Linked DNA regions of Homo sapiens: all the other regions are linked to region 1. Evidence: fine-mapped expression QTL. A gene starts in region 1. Each other region holds a variant in brackets. All regions are shown on one strand. Distances are from middle to middle. Region 1 holds the start of DAPK1 (death associated protein kinase 1). Region 2 overlaps DAPK1 (death associated protein kinase 1). Region 3 overlaps DAPK1 (death associated protein kinase 1). Region 4 overlaps DAPK1 (death associated protein kinase 1).

Evidence for each region. PIP is the estimated chance that this variant, and not a neighbour inherited with it, causes the effect.
Region 2: its variant is fine-mapped to the expression of DAPK1 in whole blood (INTERVAL, PIP 0.98).
Region 3: its variant is fine-mapped to the expression of DAPK1 in whole blood (TOPMed, PIP above 0.99).
Region 4: its variant is fine-mapped to the expression of DAPK1 in whole blood (TOPMed, PIP above 0.99).

The regions. Positions count from the first base shown.
Region 1 is chr9:87,494,791-87,500,444 of GRCh38, forward strand. DAPK1 (death associated protein kinase 1) reads left to right here and starts at 3,077. Exons shown (of 26, transcript NM_004938.4): 1 at 3,077-3,317; 2 at 4,180-4,349. The coding sequence starts at 4,288. RefSeq lists silencers at 2,726-2,785, 2,806-3,155, 3,526-3,715, 3,926-4,035 and an enhancer at 3,426-4,183.
Region 2 is chr9:87,556,144-87,561,797 of GRCh38, forward strand. The region is part of intron 2 of DAPK1 (death associated protein kinase 1); the gene reads left to right. Among named protein-coding and RNA genes, the nearest start is that of DAPK1-IT1, 5.5 kb to the left of the region's middle. RefSeq lists an enhancer at 3,616-3,785. The variant G/A (reference allele first, on the strand shown) is at 2,702.
Region 3 is chr9:87,614,994-87,620,647 of GRCh38, forward strand. The region is part of intron 3 of DAPK1 (death associated protein kinase 1); the gene reads left to right. Among named protein-coding and RNA genes, the nearest start is that of DAPK1-IT1, 64 kb to the left of the region's middle. RefSeq lists an enhancer at 4,652-5,152. The variant C/G (reference allele first, on the strand shown) is at 2,403.
Region 4 is chr9:87,608,492-87,614,145 of GRCh38, forward strand. All of the region lies in intron 3 of DAPK1 (death associated protein kinase 1), which reads left to right. Among named protein-coding and RNA genes, the nearest start is that of DAPK1-IT1, 58 kb to the left of the region's middle. The variant A/G (reference allele first, on the strand shown) is at 3,390.

The DNA.
Region 1 (5,654 bases):
CGCTAATTTATTTAAAGATTAATTGAGAGAATTATTTCATCTGTCTGGAACCTGGTATGTGTTAAGAGAAAAGTTTTCTTAATTTTTCTTTTTAAGAAGATAATCTATTGCTACATAACAAACCACTCTGAAATAATGACTTAAAACATTAAAAGTCATTGATTTTGCTCACAGAACTTGAACTGGAAGATATAAACAACTGGGAGTGAGGGTGGGGCTGGACAGCTGGCTTCTCTGGGCATCTCTCGTTCTTTCTGTGGTTTTGTCACATGTCTCTACATGGCAGCCCTAGGGTAATCATGACAGCTGAAGGCTTTAGAGTGGGTGGAGGGGGAGAGGGAGGGAGGGAAAGAGAGAGAGAGAGAGAGAGAGAGAAAGAGAAGCAAGCAGGCAGAAGCTCTAATGCCTTATGACCTAACCTTGGAAATAAATTACACTGTGCCACTGCCACTACCTTTTCTTAGAAGCAAGCAGATAGGGTTGGTGAATATTTATTGAGAGGGGAATTAGACTCCACCTCTTGATTGGGGGAGTGTCAAAGAATTTGTGAATATGTTTTTAAATGACCACATTTCCCCTTTCTAAAATGCTTGTCTAAATTGGTGTACACAAAAAGCTCGGGGGTTAGTGACTCATCCAAGGTTATTAAGCTGTTAAATGGTTCCACCAATACTAGATCTAATTTTGTGACTCCAAATTTCATGCTCTTTTTCACTACTCCAGATAATCTCCGGTGAACATCATTGTCCATTAGGGTAGTTAAGACATTCTAGCTGCCAAATAGATTCAGTCCTTTTAATTGCCTCGGACAATATATTTTTTATTTTGCAGAAAATAAATATTACCCATATGGCAGTCATCCATAAACACCTTCCAAGTTTATCCCAAACATCTGTGTTTTAAATTTTTTCTCCCAACAGATGTATTCATTTGCATTTTCCCAGATGAATCACTCTTTTTTTGTTGTTGTTGTTATTTTTGACTGTATTTCTCACCTCTCAAGACCCTTTTGTATTATCAAGCCCACTGCTTAAGCTAATACCATCTCCCAATTTGGGGACTTCCCCTTGATTCCTGTGTGCCCTTCCTGTGGGTCATTAATGCAATGTTATTTAAGACTAGGATTTGGCTGGGCGCAGTGGCTCACGCCTGTAATCCCAGCACTGTGGGAGGCCGAGCCGGGAGGATCACCTGAGGTCAGGAGTTCAAGACCAGCCTGACCAACATGGTGAAACCACGTCTCTACTAAAAATACAAAATTAGCCGGGCATAGTCACATGCCTGTAATCCCAGCTACTGGGTAGCCTGAGGCAGGAGAATCGCTTGAACCCGGGAGGCGGAGGCGGAGTTTGCAGTGAGCCAAGATTTCACAACTGCACTCCAGTCTGGGCCACAAGAGCGAAAACCCGTCTCAAAAAAAAAAAAAAGACTAGGATTTGACATAAGGCCTGAGGGGTATTCTTTTGTTTTGTTTTGCCTTGTTTTCAAGAGGCCAAAATCTTCACAGTTGAAAATTTCTGTTGAACCACAGAGATTTGAACCAACTCAGTTTAGAAAGCCTGGGGATTTGAACAACGGTATGGATCGGAAATCTCTTCATCTGTCAGTTTTCATCATTCTAGGCAGTAAAATAGATTTCCCTTTAGGAGCTTTTCACCGTTTGGGGTTCTCCAGCAGTGGGATGTGGGGAATCAACCCTTCTTCGTCTCCACCCAAACATTAGGTGGGAGCAAGGGGTGGGAAGTAGAGAAAGTGGATAGAGGTCTCCAGTGGATATGGGATCTTTGTGTAGACCAGCACAGTCCTCAGAAATCTCATGCAAGCAACATAGGTACTGTTATATTTTCTAGTGGCCACCTTTTAAAAAGTAAACAGGTGAGGCCGGGCGCGGTGGCTCACGCCTGTAATCCCAGCACTTTGGGAGGCCCAGGCGGGCGGATCACGAGGTCAAGAGATGGAGACCATCCTGGTCGACACGGTGAAACCCCGTCTCTACTAAAAATACAAAAATTAGCTGGGCATGGTGACGCGCGACTGTAGTCCTAGCTACTGGGGAGGCCGAGGCAGGAGAATCACTTGAACCCTGGAGGTGGAGGTTGCCACGCTCCACTACACTCCAGCCTGGCGACAGAGTGAGACTCCGTCTCAAAAAAAAGAAAGTAAACAGGTGAAATTAATTTTAATAATATATTTTGTTTAACCCAACGTATCCAAAATACTATCATTTGAAAGTGTAATGAATATAAAAATATTCATGAGATATTTTTCATTCTCATATCCATACTGTCTTGGACTCTAATGTGTATTTTACACTTACAGCACAATTAATTTGGGACTAGCTACATTTCAGCTCAACAATAGCCAATAGCATATGGGATAGCGCAAATAAACTCTGCGTCTCTGTTGCTTCTTTGGGTCTCGGAGACCTCAACCCTTTCTTCAGATTGCAAACCTTCTTGCCTTCAAGCCTCGGCTCCAACACCAGTCCGGCAGAGGAACCCAGTCTAATGAGGTACGCTCCCTTCCTGCCATTCTCTATTCCATTAACCTGTTTCGTGGTAAACGTAGGACTGATCCTCCAAAATTACCTTATTAATTAGCTTACATATTTATTATCTATCTGTCCCACCAGAATGCAGGTTTCCGGAAGGCAGGGATTTAAAAAAATCTGTTTTGTTCTATGTGATTTTCCCATACCAAGCACCGTGCCCGGCACAAGCTGGGATCCCAGTACACATCTCGGGACGGAAGAACCGTGTTTCCCTAGAACCCAGTCAGAGGGCAGCTTAGCAATGTGTCACAGGTGGGGCGCCCGCGTTCCGGGCGGACGCACTGGCTCCCCGGCCGGCGTGGGTGTGGGGCGAGTGGGTGTGTGCGGGGTGTGCGCGGTAGAGCGCGCCAGCGAGCCCGGAGCGCGGAGCTGGGAGGAGCAGCGAGCGCCGCGCAGAACCCGCAGCGCCGGCCTGGCAGGGCAGCTCGGAGGTGGGTGGGCCGCGCCGCCAGCCCGCTTGCAGGGTCCCCATTGGCCGCCTGCCGGCCGCCCTCCGCCCAAAAGGCGGCAAGGAGCCGAGAGGCTGCTTCGGAGTGTGAGGAGGACAGCCGGACCGAGCCAACGCCGGGGACTTTGTTCCCTCCGCGGAGGGGACTCGGCAACTCGCAGCGGCAGGGTCTGGGGCCGGCGCCTGGGAGGGATCTGCGCCCCCCACTCACTCCCTAGCTGTGTTCCCGCCGCCGCCCCGGCTAGTCTCCGGCGCTGGCGCCTATGGTCGGCCTCCGACAGCGCTCCGGAGGGACCGGGGGAGCTCCCAGGCGCCCGGGTGAGTAGCCAGGCGCGGCTCCCCGGTCCCCCCGACCCCCGGCGCCAGCTTTTGCTTTCCCAGCCAGGGCGCGGTGGGGTTTGTCCGGGCAGTGCCTCGAGCAACTGGGAAGGCCAAGGCGGAGGGAAACTTGGCTTCGGGGAGAAGTGCGATCGCAGCCGGGAGGCTTCCCCAGCCCCGCGGGCCGGGTGAGAACAGGTGGCGCCGGCCCGACCAGGCGCTTTGTGTCGGGGCGCGAGGATCTGGAGCGAACTGCTGCGCCTCGGTGGGCCGCTCCCTTCCCTCCCTTGCTCCCCCGGGCGGCCGCACGCCGGGTCGGCCGGGTAACGGAGAGGGAGTCGCCAGGAATGTGGCTCTGGGGACTGCCTCGCTCGGGGAAGGGGAGAGGGTGGCCACGGTGTTAGGAGAGGCGCGGGAGCCGAGAGGTGGCGCGGGGGTGCCACCGTTGCCGCAGGCTGGAGAGAGATTGCTCCCAGTGAGGCGCGTACCGTCTGGGCGAGGGCTTCATTCTTCCGCGGCGTCCCTGGAGGTGGGAAAGCTGGGTGGGCATGTGTGCAGAGAAAGGGGAGGCGGGGAGGCCAGTCACTTCCGGAGCCGGTTCTGATCCCAACAGACCGCCCAGCGTTTGGGGACGCCGACCTCGGGGTGCCGTGGTGCCCGGCCCCACGCGCGCGCGGGGCTGAGGGGTCGGGGGCGTCCCTGGCCGCCCAGCTTTAACAAAGGGTGCTCCTCTCCACCCCGCGAGGAGGGGCAGCTCCGGAGACCCGGTCTTCAGCGAGCGGGGTCTTAGCGCCGGGGAGGTCTACTTCCTTTTGGGGTTGCCATTTTACTATTATTATTGCCTTTTTTTTTTCTTCAAAAGGACTGGAGACTGATGCATGAGGGGGCTACGGAGGCGCAGGAGCGGTGGTGATGGTCTGGGAAGCGGAGCTGAAGTGCCCTGGGCTTTGGTGAGGCGTGACAGTTTATCATGACCGTGTTCAGGCAGGAAAACGTGGATGATTACTACGACACCGGCGAGGAACTTGGCAGGTAAAGGGGGTACCAGAAGCGTACCCTCCTGGATTGTGGAAATGCATAACGATGGGGCCATTGGGTGGTAAACAAATGCAGTTTGAATCAGGCGTCTCCCTCGCCCTTTCTGGAGATGCGCAAATCATAGAGAAAAGAGTTACTAACCCAGCGGTAAACCGCCTGATCCAAGGGCCTGGGGGTGGAGGAGAGGCAGCAGTTCAGGGCTAGATTATGATGCACAGTATATTGATCCAGTCCCCTGGACAAAATCAGATTTAATTGTCCGTGCTAACTCTTGTCAGCCCTTGCCCTTCTGTGACAACAGGACAAACACTAAGATTATAATTGCAATTGGAGTTAGCTTTTATGTGTGATTTAAACGGAGGGTACAAACTAATTAATAGGTTTTAAAAATCTTAGTACTTTACCCTCTATCTAAATTTTCAGTGTAATTTGAGCAAGTATTGGTAGGTGGTAAATGGAGACTTGCCAGATGTTGACATTGGGCTTGGATTTTGAAACTTCTTCCAACCAGGAATTTAATTACCTGGTTGGTGTTGGTGGTTGCTTTGGTTTCATTTACAATGTTAAATTTTTAACAAATCAATGAGAGTCTAATATGGCTATCTGGATTCAGAGCATACCTCCATTGCTGTAGCAGCTGTGATTCTCAGTGTAAAATCTTTCAGTTTCTAGGTAAACAAAGAATAGTTTCTTTCGGGGCATCTAAGGGCTGATTGCTGTTTCCTTTGACTGTGTATTAGACAGAGTGTTTTGGGCTCTGGTCAACTTTAGTAGAAAACCTAGTTTTCATACATACATTTAAAACTGAATTTATGGAATTTGACTGTGGTGTATTTACATTGTGAGTGGAGTAGGCAAAAGGATCTTTAAACAAACAAAATATGTATTTACTTATATGTGCATTGAAATATGTATTTTCCCATATACATCTGATGTCCTGATACAAAGCTTCCTTTTTCTCCATGAAAAGGAAATTAAAAAACACCCACATCCTGGATTGCCTAATGAGAATTATGGAAACTAAGCTTAACTAAATTTTTTTAAAAATTCAAATGATAGTGTAGAATTTTTTTAAAAGTTACTGTAACAGAGTATTTCTCTAAATATTTAGTATCGACTGAAAACATAGATGGGGGCCTGTGCTTAGGAAGAGCTCTCTGTATATTGATGATCTGGTGAGTAAATAAGGAAAGCTCTTCAAACATCACATTTCATGGATATGTTTAAGATTAAAGTTTAAGAGTGTGTGGGTGAAATATTTGGTTTAACTGGAATTAAATAACTTTACTGTGGTTTTCA
Region 2 (5,654 bases), 61 kb after region 1:
GAAGGACATTTTGGGTGGACATGTAGTTAATAATGACTTATGCAGCCCAGCACCTGTGTGGGCTGGCATTGTTCTAAGTGCTTTTTCCTGTGTTACCTCATTTAATCTTCACAACAGCGCTGTGAGGTTGGTACAAGTATTATGTTGATTTTATGGAGGAGGAAACAGGTGCAGAGAGGCAAGGTACTTTGCCCAAGCTTCCTTTGTCAAAGCTCACAGAGCTGGGGAGGGTGCCCACGTGTGTGTACCTGTACCCACTGTGCATGCTGCCCGTCACGGGCAAAGGGGCTTCCTTTTGCTGTCTTTGAATCATGGATTTATTCAGTGTCATGGGAAGCCATGCATGGGTTAGTATTCTGGCCACATCAGTGAATGCTACAGCCTGGCCCCATCATGCTAATGTCAGGAGGAGTGCGGGGGATTGGCAGAGCATGGGGAGGATGGCGGTCTCCTGCTGAAACTCTGTGGAGTAGCCTCAGCTACCCTTTCACAGAGCAGGGTTTGGTCTCTGAAAGGTGAGGTCTTTCACTTGTGATCATGGTACAAGGCTGTGGTACTTCTCGCTCCAGGAGCTCGCTGGAGAACATATCGAGGCCTGTGTGGCTCCTCAGCCCATACCCTCAGGAGAAGGAATGCTCTCCTCAGGTTTGGAATTGCTTTTCTTGGTCCTTGTTTCTAGTAGGGAGTGAGAATAGACATGAGTTGTGCCTGCTGGGCAGAGCCTTTGCAGGCCAGGCCTCCTGGGCTGCCTTGGGCGTGTTCCTTGAAGAGCCAGTCCTGCAGTTGTGGGTGGGAGAGGAGCTTCTCTGAGATGTGTTATCAGGAACCTTGGCGGAGGTGGGCAGTTGACCTTCGGCTTTCCCCTTGGCCTCTAGGGATTCATATCTCATAAAGAACAGAAAAGAGGAAGGCAGCCTGGCCCTTCCCCTCACCCTTCCCTCTTGGCGGTGTTGCGGGAAGGGAGGAGCAACTCTTCCTCAACATCCTCGAAGCTCAGTGTCTGGCATTGTAAGGCCAGTGGTTTTCAAACCTCTGGGCTCAGAACCTTTGTTCAAAGCAAGTGTTACCTGGCAGCCACACATCCATCCAGGCAGCCCCATGAGGAATGCTCAGATCCATCTGAGAAGAGTCTGGAAACCCACATCTTCATTTCCCACCATGGCCCTGTCAGGGGAGACCCTTTGTCCTGTACCTTCCTGTCGTGTTCTTTCTACGTTTCACCCACTGCCTTCCTCGTCCTTCCAAATTAGATTATTAATCTCATGAAGAAAATACAGCTTTCTTCCTGTGATTCAAAACATCTTTTGTGAGCTCTAAAACCATGCCGATTAAGGAATTATGAATTTAAAATAATATTAAATGGTCAGTAGCTTTTATTGACAAATGATCTTGGGACAAAGCCATTAGATTTTTTTTCTATCTCTTACAGAACCCCCCTCCTGTTAAAACATTACTCATTGAGAAGTGATCCATTAAAAGAAAAATGTGTTGGATTTTAAAAAATACCTAATCCTTGGCAGGGCGCGGTAGCTTATGCTTATAATCACAGCACTTTGGGAGGCCAAGGTGGGTGGATCACTTGAGGTCAGGAGTTCGAGAACAGCCTGGCCAACATGGTGAAACCTCGTCTTTACTAAAATTACATAAATTAGCTCGGTGTGGTGGCATGCACCTGTAGTCCCAGCTACTTGAGAGGCTGAGGCTTGAGAATCACCTGAACCTGGGAGGCGGAGGTTGCAGTGAGCTGAGATGATGACATTGCACTCCAGCCTGGGTGACAGAGTGAGACTCCGTCTGAAGACAAACAAACAAAAAACAAAAACCGAATCCTTTAGCCAGGCGTGTCTCTTGTTGGATAAGTCAGTTTGGAATCTTTTGGATGTTTTCCTTCTTTTACTTGCTCAGCCATAATAAATCTTTCATTTTAATTTTGATCAGCAGCATTGTGAGGTCCTGCCCAGTGTGGTAATGGGCAGTTAGCTTGTCACAGTCCTGTCATCTTGCCAGCCCCTTGAGAGCTGCCAGAAGCTTGTGGTCTGTCTGGTTTCACATGGTGGTCATGGACTCTCTTAGGGACTCACATGTTACTGCACAGTGGGTATGCATCTTGGCCTGTCAGCACCTCTCCCTGAAGCATCCCAGGAGCTATTTACCAAAATGGATCATGCTCTTTTGTCAAGAGCAGGCCACTGGACTGCATTGCACCCCTGAGGATATACCCACAGATCAACGGGACAGAATAAATAAAGCAAGATGAAAAAGAATGAAGGGATCTAGTCGAATAAGCTTTGCAACTAAAAATCTTCCATGAATACAGGATCTCAGAATCACTTGATAATATGCTCCACATACATAAGTACACATATGCACACACACACAGCCGTGTGAGTACAGATACACAAGCTGTAAGGTGGTCATTGCACACCAACGTCCCTTTCGACGAAAACGAACAATTCCTCGATACTAGCTGGTCTCTTGGTTTCTGCTGTTTGTGACTTGTCATTGCAGGGAAGGGCTGTGATGGAGGGAGTTTTTGTTGACTTGGTAGTTCCTGTCTGCAGACCCCTTCATTGCTTCATTGGATTCCTTGGACAGCCTGCTATAGCCACATGGGGGCTCAGTTAGAGCCTGCTCTGTGAGCTGCATCTACCCATTTGGGCTCCCACGTGCAGAAAGCATGATTCCCATGCTCCATGTGGGC[G/A]GACTCCTGTTAGGCAGGTGGGAAAGGAGAAACCAGACTGCCTGGAACCTGCCCACAGGGCCTCTACCCAGTGGGGCATCAGGGAGGTACCACCCATTCCAGTCACTTGTTGAAAACTGTTCCCACTCTGGGGGAGGGGAGGGTAAGTCATGGTCTCTCTCTGTAAGAAATCACAGGTGCATGTGTGTGCACATGCATGCACCAGCTATCTCCTCCTTCTCCCCAACAAAATGACAGTTGGCATTCGTAGAGCCTGTACTCTGAGACGGGGATTTTGTGCTTGACGTGTATTATCTAATTTAATCTACTTAACCCTATAAGTTAGATGAAATATTATCCTTGTTTTACAAATGAAGAAATTAAGGTAGAGGTAATGTGTCATCTCTAGTACTCTAGAGTTTCTAATGCCCCAGGTATGCTTCTTTTTATTACAGGATAGGCTAGGGTAGGCTAGGGTAGGCTAGGCTAGGGTAGGGTAGGGCAGGGCAGGGTAGTGTAGGGTAGGGTAGCATCTACACCAATGCTGTGCATAGACCTTTCTGCAATTATGGGAATGTTCTGTGCCGCCCAGTGTGGTAACATCTAGCCACATGTGACTGTTGAGCATGTGAAATGGGACTAGTGTTTCCAAAAAGGTAAATTTTTAATATTCTTTAATTTTAGTTAAATTTCACTAGCACCGTGACTAGTAGCTACTGTGGTGGACTTTCCCTGCAGCTGAGGGCCCTCCCAGGACGCTCTCAAAAGCAGGATGTAGGACGCCTTGGACTTGATTAGCACTGTTTGATCATTGATTGATTTGAAAGATCTTTGCTGAGCCCCTCCTAGGTACTAAGCAGCTCAGGCTGTGAGAATGTCTGAACTCCAAGAATTGCTGCATGGTTCTTTTTGAACTGAGACCAGTGAGCAGGCGAATGTCTACAATAGTCCCGGGTGTTGGAAAGGACTCTGGTGTGGACCTTTGATGCCTGCTGCCCCAGTGAGTGACCCAGTGTCACCAGACTCGTGTGCCCACTCCTCAGAAAGGCCCCCATTCTTCATGCCCCCTATCTTGCCCTTCCTCTGCCTCCATCCGCTTCTTTTGTCTCCCCACCTTGGTTTATGAAGTCTCCTCTCTCCTCTTCCCTCCTCTGCCCTTGAATCTTTTTCTTTCCTTTTTTCTTTTTTTGTTTTTTTTTGAGACGGAGTCTTGCTCTGTCGCCCAGGCTCGATCTTGGCTCACTGCAACCTCCTCCTCCCGGGTTCAAGCTATTCTCCTGCCTCAGCCTCCCTAGTAGCTGAGATTACAGGTGCATGCCACCACGCCTGGCTAATTTTTGTATTTTTTTTTTAGTAGAGACGGGGTTTCGCCATGTTGACCAGGGTGGTCTAGAATTCCTGACCTCAAGTGATCTGCCTGCCTTGGCCTCCCAAAGTACTGAGATTACAGGTGTGAGTCACCATGCCCAGCCTGCCCTTGGAACTTTAAAATTTATTTGAAAGTTTATTTTAATATGTGGTTACAATCACATAACATTACATTTACCATTTAAACATTTTAAAGCGTGCAACTGAGTTGTGTCAGCTATATCACATTGTTGCGTGACACTTCCCCAGAACTTTCTCATCTTGCAAAACTGAAATTTCGTGCCTACTAAACACAAACTCCCCCTTCCCCTACCCCTTGGCAGATATGAGTCTACTTTCTGTTTCTGTGATTTGGACTACTTTAGATACCTCACATGAGTAGAATCACACAATATTTGTGCTTTTGTGACCTGCTTATTTCACTTAGCATGATGTCCTTGAGGTTCATCCACGTTGAGGCATGTGTCAGAACGTACTTTTTTTTTTTTTTTTTTGAGACAGTCTTGCTCTGTCACCCAGGCTGGAGTGCAGTGGCATGATCTCCACTCACTGTAACCTCCACCTTATAGGATCAAGCAATTCTCCTACCTCAGCCTCCCGAGTAGCTAAGATTATAGGCACCCACCACCACGCCCGGCTAACTTTTGTATTTTTAGTAGAGACGGAGTTTCACCGTGTTGGCCAGGCTGGTCTTGAACTCCTGACCTCAGGTGATCCACCCACCTCGGCCTCACAAAGTGTTGGGATTACCAGTGTGAGCCACCGCGCCTGGCTAGGATGTGCTTCCTTTTTAAAGGCTGCATTCTATTCCATTATGTGTATAAATCTCATGTCATGTAGTCATTCATCCATCAGTGGACATTTGAGTGCCCTTGTCTTTTACTTTTTTGTCCTTTCCCTTCATTTTCCCCAAAATAAAATATGAAATTAAAATAGCGGAACCAATAATATATTAGATGAGGAGCCGTTTGTGCTTATTTCCTATCTTTTGGGCAGCAAGAGTTGAGCCTTTATGCCCTCCCCAATCATTGCTACAAAATACACCAAATATGTGGCCGGGCGTAGTGGCTCACGCTTGTAATCCCAGCACTTTGGGAGGCCAAGGCGGGCGGATCACGAGGTCAGGAGATCGAGACCAGCCTGGCTAACACGGTGAAACCTCGTCTCTCCTAAAAATACAAAAAATTAGCCGGGCGTTGTGGCGGGCGCCTGTGGTCCCAGCTACTCGGGAGGCTGAGGCAGGAGAATGGCGTGAACCCGGGAGGCGGAGCTTACAGTGAGCCGAGATGGCACCACTGCACTCCAGCCTGGGCGACAGAGCGAGACTCCGTCTCAAAAGAAAAAAAAAATACACCAAATATGTTAGCCAGAGTGAATTTCTATTCTAATGAAACCTTTCATTGATTTTTTATTTCTCTGGGTCATTAACTTCCCATTGAATAAAGAAATTCCCCAGACCTGCCCTGGGGGATTCCCCTGCTCCATGGAAGTTTGATAGGCATTGCATTTGGGTGCTAGAAATGGAAGCCCCTTAGACAGCAGTTTACTTAAGTTAAAGGTTCATTTTCTTCTCATCCAGAAGTGGGGCTGTGTGTGGACAGTGCTT
Region 3 (5,654 bases), 120 kb after region 1:
TGGTACTCCAAGACGGAGAGTGCCTAGGCCACAGGTCATGAGAGCATTGCTTTATTAGATCAGTATCTGCAAGCAGGTCAGTGACAGTCTTCCCAAGACGTCCTTGAGCCCCTCAGAGCATCCCCTTCTGCCTCACGTCCTTGCAAAATGTGGTTTAACAAGCAAATACTTCCAAGAACAACCTCATACTGCTTTTTCCTCCTAATTTGTATTTCCAGATAACCAAGTATTACCTCACCTTCTTCTATTTAACAACTCTTTATTTCCCTGTGTGTAACTTGTTTTTAATATTGTCAAAATTACTGCAATGCAAATGAGGAACATCAGGGATCCAGCGGGACCGCTGGGAATATGTGCTTGTTCCGTGTTGAAATGTCAGTTTCATTTCCAGCCTCTGAATGAAGGCAGTGACCGAGCATGGCTACTGTGAGATGCAAACACTATTCAATTAACAGAGTTACATAGAAATGGGCTCAAGGACCTGGTCTTCCCTGGACGACAGAAGTGTCATTGACGTTTCCCCTAATATTTTGATAGGAAAATTCAAGTAGAGTTGATTATTTCAAAAATGTAGGGTAGAACGTTCACTACTTTTAAGGCACTTGCACTTAGGCATGGGTCTTCCCAAACTGCCTGAAGAGAGGATATGGTTAAACAACTGAGTGGCTTTCCTTGGAGGAAAAGGGAAACTGCCCTTCACTTTACCTTTCTGAGTCAGCCACAGTGGGCGCCTCCCTGAAATGATCTCATTTAATCCTTGCGTGCAACTCTAGGAGAGTGGTGTTACCACCCTGCAGGTAAGGAACGCTGTGCCCCCTCTGTCCACATATAGGTCACAGGAGCCGGTAGAGAGATGCTCATTCTCAGACAGTAGCCTCTTGGAGAGAGAATTCTTTTGTTTGAGTTTTCTAAGCCCTAGGATTCTGCTAAGCCACTGTAGGATTTTGCCTGCAAGGCCCCATTGTCTGTGGGCTGGTTGGCCAGCTTTGCTCTTCCTTCTTGAGAGTGACTTTCACATTCCAGTGGTTCTGGAGACACATTTGCTCCTCCTCCATTTGAAAGCAGTGATTTAGAAGCTTTTGAAAGCCAACCTGGCCTCCCAGGGCCCCTCACCTTTCTGCTTCCTTCTCTAGCGTGGCTGCATTGTTCTTGCCCCTCATTTCTTAGCATTTCCATGAAGTTGGGGGTGGGCAGAAGATGTTCTAGTTTTCCAGTGGGATTGCTGAAGCCTAGGAGTGGGATGGCTTCATGGGGGCTCTGGTGTGATAGTGGCATGTGCCTATATGCCCCTTGCATATGTTTCTTTGAGGGCAAGACTACGTCCTACTCTGGCACCCACAGCACTGAAGACTGTGCTTGGCCCAATACATGGATGTCAAGTCCAGATAGAGCAGGAAGAACAGCAGGATCTGAAAAAGAGTCACGTGTGGCTCAAGAACCAGTTAGTTGACCAGGGAGAAGGACAGTTTTGGGGGGAAACGTTGATTTACTTGCATGAGCTTCAGAAAACTCTTGACTGAGTTTCCTAAAGAGCAAAGTACCCCATCCTCTTGAGTATCAGGGTTTGGGTCAGTTTGGGTCCTACCAGGAAACAGACGGCCCACACAAACAGGGAAATTTGAGACTTAACAAACATGTGTGCAAGGTTTGGAGAACATGATAAGTGATGGGGAAGCACCCTCTGAGAATGGAGCTGTCATCACCCTTGGGCCTGAAAAGTAAAACAGGGGAGTGGTGTGAGGACCCTGGAATGGATAACTTCCTGGAGAGCACTGCATAACACAAGCTGAGCCTCAGTAGAGGGCCTCAGCCAAATCCACGGCCACATGGCTGGAAACTGTTCTCCTTTTCTGTGGGGCTACCTGTTGGCCAAACCAAACTAGTGTCCTGTTTTCAAGGGAACCTTTTGATTCAGTCTCTATGAGCAGCCTCCCTAAACCCAGAAGTGGATGTAGGAGATTGGAGCATAGATCTGGAGAGGCAGGGAGAAAGTAACTTCACTCTGGGTTCAAAGAGATTTGTCTTGGTTCTCTAGTCCAGATGACACTTCAGTCCTGATGCTGTAGCTAAGTAGTTACAACCCAAACTTCCCGGTGTCCCCCTTCCCCAATGGCATCCTTCCACTGAAAAATGCACAATTTGTCACTGCATAGTTAGGGTCCATTTGATCTCATGCCCTCTTTTCTCAAAGACTTTCTGCCCATCAGAAATTCTTTAAAAGGGAGTACATTTTTTTGGAAGCATGATCCCCTTTTGTTTTTCCTATTTTCCACTTCCTTATTGGAATGGGGAGGTAGAGACATGGAGGGTGAGGGCCAGAAGTCTTGGCTCTTTGGCAGGTGATAGCTTTCCATTGCCAGGGCCACTTGCCTAGCAGGAAAGCTCAACACCACCTACCTCTT[C/G]TACCCCTTGGGTGCCACATCCATCTCAGAAGGGATGCGAGTGGTCTTGGTGCTCCTTGACATCCACGTTTATAATGGATGCAATGGGAAGAGTTTTCCTGGAGACAGGACGCAATCCATACTCACTCCCTTCTCTTCCTTGACTCTCATTCCCCCTTCAGATCACTTTCATCTACCTTCCATTTCCACTACTGCCACTGAAAGGGTGCTGCCAAAACTTTCTTATATTTATTGCAAAGTGTATTAATTTGTATGCAGCCCATGATACTCAATTGTCACCTCCTAATCAATTGGTAATCCCTACAGATGTGTCTCTAGGTCTCTCTGGAGCCCTACAGTTGCTTCTCCAGTGGCCTACTCGACATTTCCTCCAAGACGGGTCTCCCCAGGTACCTCAACTTCACGTGTCTTAAACTGGACTCATAGCATTCCCTCCATAGTCCCTGCTCCCCTCTGCTTCTCTAGCTCAGTCCATGGCATCTGCATCTTCCTGGTTGCTCAGACTGGGAAGCTTGGAGCTCTCCTTGCTTCATTCTTCTCCCCTATTCTCCACTGTGGCACACATCTAGTCTTCCGTGATGTCCTGCAGGCTCTGCCACAGAAAGAGCTTCTGAGTCTTCCCTTATTACCATTCTCTTACTTTGGCCCTGGCCCAGAATCTCAAGAATTCTTCCTGAATTATTACAGCATCCTCTAGTTTCTCTCCTGTTGAGCTCACCCCTGGATTCATTACAAAACAGCTGCTTCTCTTGCTGAAGAATCTTTGGTGAATGGCACATGAATAGATGCTCAATATTATTAGTCAGTAGGATCTATAACTCAGAAGCACTGTGAGATGGCGCTTCACACCCACTAGGATGGCTCTAATCAAAAAGACAGGCAATCTCAAGTGTTGGTGGGGATATGGAGAAATTGTAATGCTCAAACAGTGCTGGTGAGAATGTAAATTGTTCCAGCCACTTTGGGAAACAGTTTGTCTGTTCCTCAAAATGTTAAACGTAGTTTTCATAGGACTCAGCATTTCCACTCCTCAGACTGTACCCAAGAGACATGAAAATATATTTCCACATGAAAACTTACACATGAAAGTGGTAGAAGTATTATTCATACTAGCCAAAAAGTGGAAACTAACCAAATGTCCCTCAGCTAGTGAACAAAATATGGTATGTCCATTCAATGGGCTGTTACTTGGCAAGGAAAATAACTGTGACAACATGGATGAACCTTGAAAACATGCTAAGTGAAAGAGGCCAGACCCAATAGACCACCCACCCTATGATTTTATTGACATGAACTGTCCAGAGTAGGCACATCTGTGGAGACACAAAGTAGCTGCGTGGCTGCCGAGGGCAGGTGGGAGTGTGGTGGGAAAGTAGGGTGGCTACTCATGGACACAGGGCTTCTCTTGGGGGTGATAATGTTCTAAAATTAGATTGTGGGGATGGTTGCATAACCCTGAAAATACTAAAACCCAGTGAGTGGTACACTTTAAAAGAGTGAATTGTATGGTGCGTGAATTATATATCAAGAAAGATTTAATCTTGGATGACTCCCTCCTGCCCGCTGAATGAGGTCCATGATTGGTAGAGTGGTGCAGAGCCTTTGAACCTGTGTCCAGGCCCCTCCCCATATTCATCCATGTCTCTTCCACCCCACTTTGCCTCTGCCCTGATGCTCCACCCACAGAGAATGTCTTGCCATTGCCAGATCACACCTGTTCCCCTGTAGAACTCCTACTCATCCATCAAAACCCAGCTCACATGTCACCCTCTCTGGATTTCCTACCCACTCCAGTTAGGTTTAATTGTTTTTGTACTTGTGTTTTCCTCACTTTTTAGGCGTGTGTCGATTATAGCACATACTGTACTGTATTTTAAACATTTATGTGTCTCTCCTGCAGTGGACTGTGAGCTTCCTGAGGATGTGCCAGTATTTTACTGATTTATTTTTCTGTGCCAACCTTGTAGGAGAGGATGTACATGCTAGCACACTGTCAGTGCCCAGTGAAAGTGGTTGAAGTTGAATTCTGTCAGGGAGACTGGCTGGGAAACAACAGTAAGGACTCTGAGGAACCGCAATGAGGAGCTTTTTCATGGCAAGGACAGTGGGGTGAAGAGAGGAAACAGAGCCACAGGCACTGCTTCCCGAAGGCTCTGCCTTGCACGTGACCTGCCATACTCTAAGTAGTCCTCTCTCATGAGAACGGGGCAGTTTGTCAGCAGGGCTGATTTCCACCCTGGGCCTGAGAGGATTGAGACGCAGGACCATGTGTTCAAGCTGGATGCATGGGATGGGAACGAGCTCAATAGAAGGACAGTCGATGGGACTCCACGGGACAGGCATTGAGAACCTATTATATGGCCGGCATTGTTATGCTAGAGGCCAATGACAGTCAGAGGTGGGCGGTTGAAAGTAATGCTGCTGATTGTCGTTGTCATCTGGTAGAGTCATGCCCATCACGTAACAGCTGCCAATGCATATTTCTGCAAAGAAGGAAAGAAAGCCGATGAGCTCTTCAGAAGATGAGCTCTTCAGACAATCCTAAGTCTCCTTTACCCATTACAGCATCCTCCATGGCACTCACCCCAATCTTACTCTGGCATGCATGGGCCCAGACAGACGATGCTGTTGAAAAGGAGATCTGAACCTCATCTGCTCTCCTTAGAGGCCTCTGGTGGGGGCAGATCTCTGCTCTCAGCCCCTGCTTCCAGCAGAGCGGGGTTTCAGGCCACCCTCTCCCTGGCCCTCTCCCCAGGTGGGCGGTGGAGACCCTCTGCTCGTGCCCCTCCGCTCGTGCCCCTCCTTGGTCTCTGATTCCCTCTCCTCTCAGGGCCAGGTGTTTTAGAGCTCAAAGAGGGAAACTGGGATAGAAAACGTGTGACAGCCTTAGCACCTGCTGAGTGAATTCCAGCTCTTTCCCCTTTTCCATCGCTTCCTCCTCCTCAAACCCTTCTTCCCCCTCCTCAGACTAAGGGAAGAATCGCTCTGCTCTATGCCTGTTAAAATTGCGGCTCTCCATGTCTCAAGGTGGCTAAAGAACAGGCAGCACATCCTTCGGATCAGCTGTGTGCCTCTGATGGGCTGGTGGTCCTCTGTCCTGGGATTTCCAGGTCATGGAAGGGCAGGGAGAATTAAGCCCAGTCAAGAAGGAGGAAGAGAAGGAGTAGGGGGAGGGGGAGGGGGAGGGAGAGGGGAGGAGGAAGGGGAGGAGGAGGACCGGGAATAGGACAGGGAGGAGGAGGAGGAGGACTG
Region 4 (5,654 bases), 110 kb after region 1:
GAGATCTTGGGATTGCTGGATCGTGTAGTAAATGTATGTTCAACTTTATGAGAAACTGCCAAGCTGTCTTCTAAAGTGAGCATACCGTTTTACAGTCCCTGCAGCAATGGATGAGAATTCCGATTGCTCCACCAGTGGGGCTCTGTACTGTTTTTCAATTGTAGGCTTTCTAATAGTTGCATCTTGGCATACAGCTTTACATTGTTAACTGCATGATGACCCTAAATGAAAGCTGAGCGATCTCACTAGGAACAGCTTTTAGATGGAGTGAGCGGGAGGGCCCTTAGGAGCTGGCCACATCCTTCACAGGGCTAGACAGGTCCCTGGTTATTTGCTCTTCATAAATTCTAGTGTCCCCTAGGAGCTGACTATTTTTGCCTCTTCACCACCCAGGCATCTGAGGGGTTGTGATGGTTACCTTCATGTGTCAACTTGACTGGACCATGAGGATCCCATATATTTGGTCAGACATTATTCTGTGAGGATGTTTTTGGGGTGAGATTAGCATTTGAATCAGTAGACTGAATAAAGCAGAACACATTCGGGAATGTGGGTGGCTCCGTCAATCTGCGGGAGGCCCGAATAGAACAAAAAGGCTGACCCTAAGTAGGAGACCATTTTTCCTGCCTAACGTGGCTTTGAACTGGGACACCGGCTTTTCCTTGCCTTTGGACTTAAACTGAAGCATCAGCTCTTCCTGCGTCTTGAGCCTGATGGCTTGGGCTGGAACTACACCAGCAGCTCTACTGAGTTGCCAGCTTGCCGACTCACCTGGCAGATTTGGGGACCTGCCAGCTTCCATAATAATGTGAGCAAATTCCTATATATGCATATGATGCGTAGGATGCATATGCACGGTATGATGCGTGTTTCTCTGGAGAACCCTGATAATACAGTGGCACTAAGTACCTAAGAACAGAAAGTGCACCCTTACTATTATCTTGGAAGTCTGTCCCATTTTTTATGTATTTACGTTACCTTGAAGAGGTGTGTTATAATTTTTTTTCTTTTTGCTATACTTGTTTTGGAGGTTATGTTTTATAATTTTTAATAGACTATTGAAAATATTAAATCTGTCCAGGAGAAACAGTCGTCTTTGCCTTTGAGAAAATTATCATCCTAAATTCTAATGTCTTTAACAGAAGCTTTAGTCATCAGTGACAGATTCCATTTCCACTTTTCTTTCTTAAGAATGCTGAAGTACAGGGGTGGTTAGGGAGAGAATCAAAATGAAGAACTTGTCAGAATATAACCCCAGGAGGTAATAGTGGCTGTGTGTCTGAATCTTCTGGTTCAGTAGTTTCCGTGTGGATATAGTTTTTGGATTTACTGCTTTGACATGAAGTCCACGGCAAGTCGAACTTCCTCTGAGGGTTAGTGATGAAGCGGGTCCCCTTGTTGAAAACTTGTGCCTGTCTCTACCTTATATATGTGAGTTCTGTCCTCCAGACTCCATGCCCATCCTTCCCACTGAAATAAACATCCCAAACTACCCCTTCTCTTGGTATTTCATGAACCACTGCCACTGACCCAAAAAGGTATCTTTGCTGTCCTTTGTACAGAAACTATTTGGGATCTGCATTAATGGTGCAGTTGTCAAATCCCAGTCCAGGATCTGCCCTTTACCATTTTTGCAAGCCTGAAAGTCGCTTTAAAGGCATATGTTTTTCCCCTACTTGCTTCACTGGAGAATCATTCACAGAGGATCTGTCATTGCAGCTCAGCATAGCATATACCTGAAGGAGGCAAATGTGATTTCTTAAAATCACGATTTCGGATTTCATGTCCTCCACGTCCCATTGTTCTCTAATGAAGTCGTGCCAATACCAAAATTTCTTCTTACTGTGTTGCAGCTCACCCACACATCATCACACGGGCAAGCCACTACAAAACTTTCACCTTCAGTGCTTGAATCGTTTCATAACTCGCCTTGTTATCTGGTGAAGGGCGAAGCCAAACTCACAGAACTTAAAGTCGATGCTATTTCTAAAGTGTGTGGCATTGTTCCTCAGCAGCCCTGGCTTCTAGCTTTCCATTCCTAAACTTGCTGCTCAGAAACAGCTAGGTATTTTGGTCTGTGGATAGTTATGCATTTTTCTGTCTAGCTGTTGTCTGCCCAGCCATTGTTCAAACCCAAGTGCCCTTAGGGGCTAGGCATACAATGTAAATGAGGATGGTTGGCCTCCATGAAGCCTCAGTGTCAGGGATGCACCAGCCGTGGAGACTGTGGCCCACTGGAGCCCTGAGGCCCCACCCCGAAGGGACAGCCACCAATCAGTTGATTGTTCCTGTGTGTAATTTTGGATTCAGTGTTGTCAGCTCTTCCAGTTTTTTCAGGAAAAGTCTGTAATCTAGATTTTTAATATTGGCAGTCAGTTCATAGTATTCACGAACAGACAAAATAAAACATCTGAAGATTGTGTGTCTTGTACACAATCCAAATTCTAGCCTGTTTTATGTAAGCACATACTTTATCTAGCACATACTTTATCTAGCACATACTTTGTAAGTATGTGAGCACATACTTTATCTAGCACAGACTTCCAAATTCTAGCCTGTTTTATGTAAGCAATAAGTTGATCACTACTATAGGAGAAGTAACATGAGAAAGACTGCCTCAAAGGGTTAGTGATTCTATGGGAAGGGCAAGATGCACACTTAGCATTATAAAATGATTTTTTTAAAAAATATACAGTTTAAAACAGTGGCTCTTAAACTTTAGCATGCATCAGAATTGCCTGAAGGGCTTGTTTGACTATTTGACAGGCTTCCAGAGTTTTGTATTCAGTGGGTTTGGGGTGGGACCTAGGCGTTTGCATTTTTATTTAATTTTATTTTTCCTAGAGACGGGGTGTCCCTATGTTACCCAGGCTGGCCTCAAGCTCCTGCACTCAAGCGCTTCTCCTGCGTCAGCCTCCTGAGTAGGTGGGACTGGGGTGTAAGCCACTGGGCCCAGCTCAGAATTGACTTTTTGGTTTTTTTCTTGAGACAGGGTCTCATTCTGTCACCCAGGCTGGAATGCAGTGGTGCAATCATAGCTCACTGCAGCCTTGAACTCCCGGGCTCGAGTGATTCTCCCACTTCTGCCTCCTGAGTAGCTGGGATTACAGGTGTGTGGCACCACACTCAGCTATTTTTTATTTTTTGTAGCTTCAGTGTCATTTTGTTGCTCAGGCTGGTCTCGACCTCCTGGGCTTATGCAGCCCTCTCACCCTGTCCTCCCAAGTTGCTGGAATTACAGTTGTGAGCCACAACGCCCAGCCAGAATTTCAATTTTTCCTTTTTTCCTAACCTTGAAAGCCAGAATTTCCATTTTTAACAGATTCCCGGGTGATGCGGATGCTGCTGGTCTGGGTTCATCTTTTGAGAGGCTGTGCTCCCCAAAAAGG[A/G]TATGTTGAAGTGCTATGTCCCTGTCTTAGTTCATTTTGGGTTTTGCAATAACAAGACCACAGACTGGGTAATTTATAGAGAAAATAAGTTTATGTCTTACAGTGCTGGAGGCAGGAAGTACATTTTGCTGCATGTGATGTGAGTCTTCTTACTGTCATAACATGGCAAAAGGCATCGCGTGGCAAGAGAGGGCAAGAGCCCACTCCCAGGAGCCCTTTTTTAAAGGTACTAAACTGACCCATGAAGGTGGAGGAGCCCTTATGGCCTAAATTTCTTCTTAAAGTCCCTACCTCTCAACACTCTTACAATGGCAATTAAATCTCAACTTGAGTTTTGGAGAGGACAAACATTCAAACCGTAGCACCATAGTATCTCAGAACATGACCTTTTTGGATATGAGATTGTTTTAGATGTAATTAGTTAAGATGAGGTCATACTGGAATAGCACAGAGAACCTAATCTGATAGGACTGGTGTCCTTATAAGAAGGCCCTGTGGAGACAGAGGAATGGAGTGAAGCATCTATACGCCAAGGAACCTGCCAGAAACTAGGACAGAGGCATGGAGCAGATTCATCCTCAGATCCCTTAGAAGGACCATCCCTACCAACGTACTGAGTTAGGACTGCCAGCCCCCAAAACTATGTGATAGCAGGTTGTTGTTTTAAACCACCCCATGTGTGGTCCTTTGTTAGGGCAGGCCTAGGAAACTAACACAGAGGCACCAGTTAACAGAAACTAGATTTCCTGGACTGGGAGCCTACTCGCATGTTGATCTAAAATTCTATAAGCAAGTTAGAAACAAAACAAAACATAATGCCTAATTATGGTAATGCCATCAGGTAACTGCAAAATGACGCAATACATACATCTCACTCCCTGCAGATAGCCTGAGCAGAGAAGGATTGGAGCGGGGGTGGGGGTTTGGAGTCTAACATAAGATAAGGAAGAAATGGACATCACCAGGTTCTGGCCTGCTTCAGGATGGTCACCTGAGTAGCTCTGGATCACATGTCTGAAAGGTTACCATGTTAAGAATTATAAAGTAAAAGTGCTAAGATGGCCAAGTAAGTATTGGCATGGTGGATTGTTCCAGAGAAATCAAGCCAGTTTGGTTCTCCAATCCTAAATGTCTCCCCTTATTTGTTCTGCTTCCATTTCGAAGCACATCTTTAAAACAGAGTAACCCCATTTAGCTTTCTCTCTCTTTCTTTGTGACAGGAAATTCCATTTAATTAGTGCAGTCTGCTATGGTTGTAGCCAAGTGCAGGGCGTGGAGTGAATAATGCATTTTTTATATTTAAAAAGGTAAATTTTGCTGATTTTTTTAATCATGGTAAAACAACATACAGTTTACCATCTTAACCATTTTTAAGTGCACAGTACAGCAGTGTTAATTCTATGCATATTGTTGTGCAACAGATTTCTAGAACCTTTTCGTCTTGCAAAACTGAAATGCTGTGCCTATTGAACAACTCCTTTTTAGCTCTGTGTTTTACTTTGGCTAAGTTAATAATTTCTGGAATTCAGTTTGCCCATCACAAACAACTGCTAAGTTGTATTCAAACATTTGTGCAATATTAGGTCACTTTATGTAGGATCACGGTTCAGTTGGCTCACTCTCTCATAACCAAACTGAGATGCAAAATAATCAGAATACAAATACAACTTTGTTTTTCATTGTATGTCAGCGTGGTGCATGTATGTAGACGAACACATGGTGCCTTGGTCAGCAAGATCAGAATCGCAAGAGCCTTTGAAGAAACACATGCAGTGATTAAAGTGATAGTTTCAAAGGATCTTAAAAGTGGCAAAAATTGTACAGAGCTGAATGTGGTGGTCGGGACTTAGGGAAGCTGATAAATGGGGTGTGTGGCACAGAGCCCTTCAGTCTCCCTGTCTCTGCTTCTCTCTGGGCGCTCACGAACCACAATAGCACACACTCAGACTTCCTCAATGCGTTCTTTTGCTGCCACATTTGTTCTCTCTTTTCTGAGCTCGAGCCAGCTCTTTTGACTTTTTGAACTTTTGTCTTTATTCACAAAGGTAATTTCAAGAGCTCTTGTGGGTTCCACTTCTGGCATCCCGCTCCTCAGATACCTACTATTAGGCAAGAGCAGAGAAGTAAAGTGCATTTGGCAGCAGTCTCTGCCTTTCAAAGCAGAGCTAAATCATGTAAAATAGGTTATTTTCCATCCAGGCATTCTCTTGAGAAAGAAAACCCTGTGTGTGTCTTCCCCCATACTCTCACTTCTTGCCAGTTCAG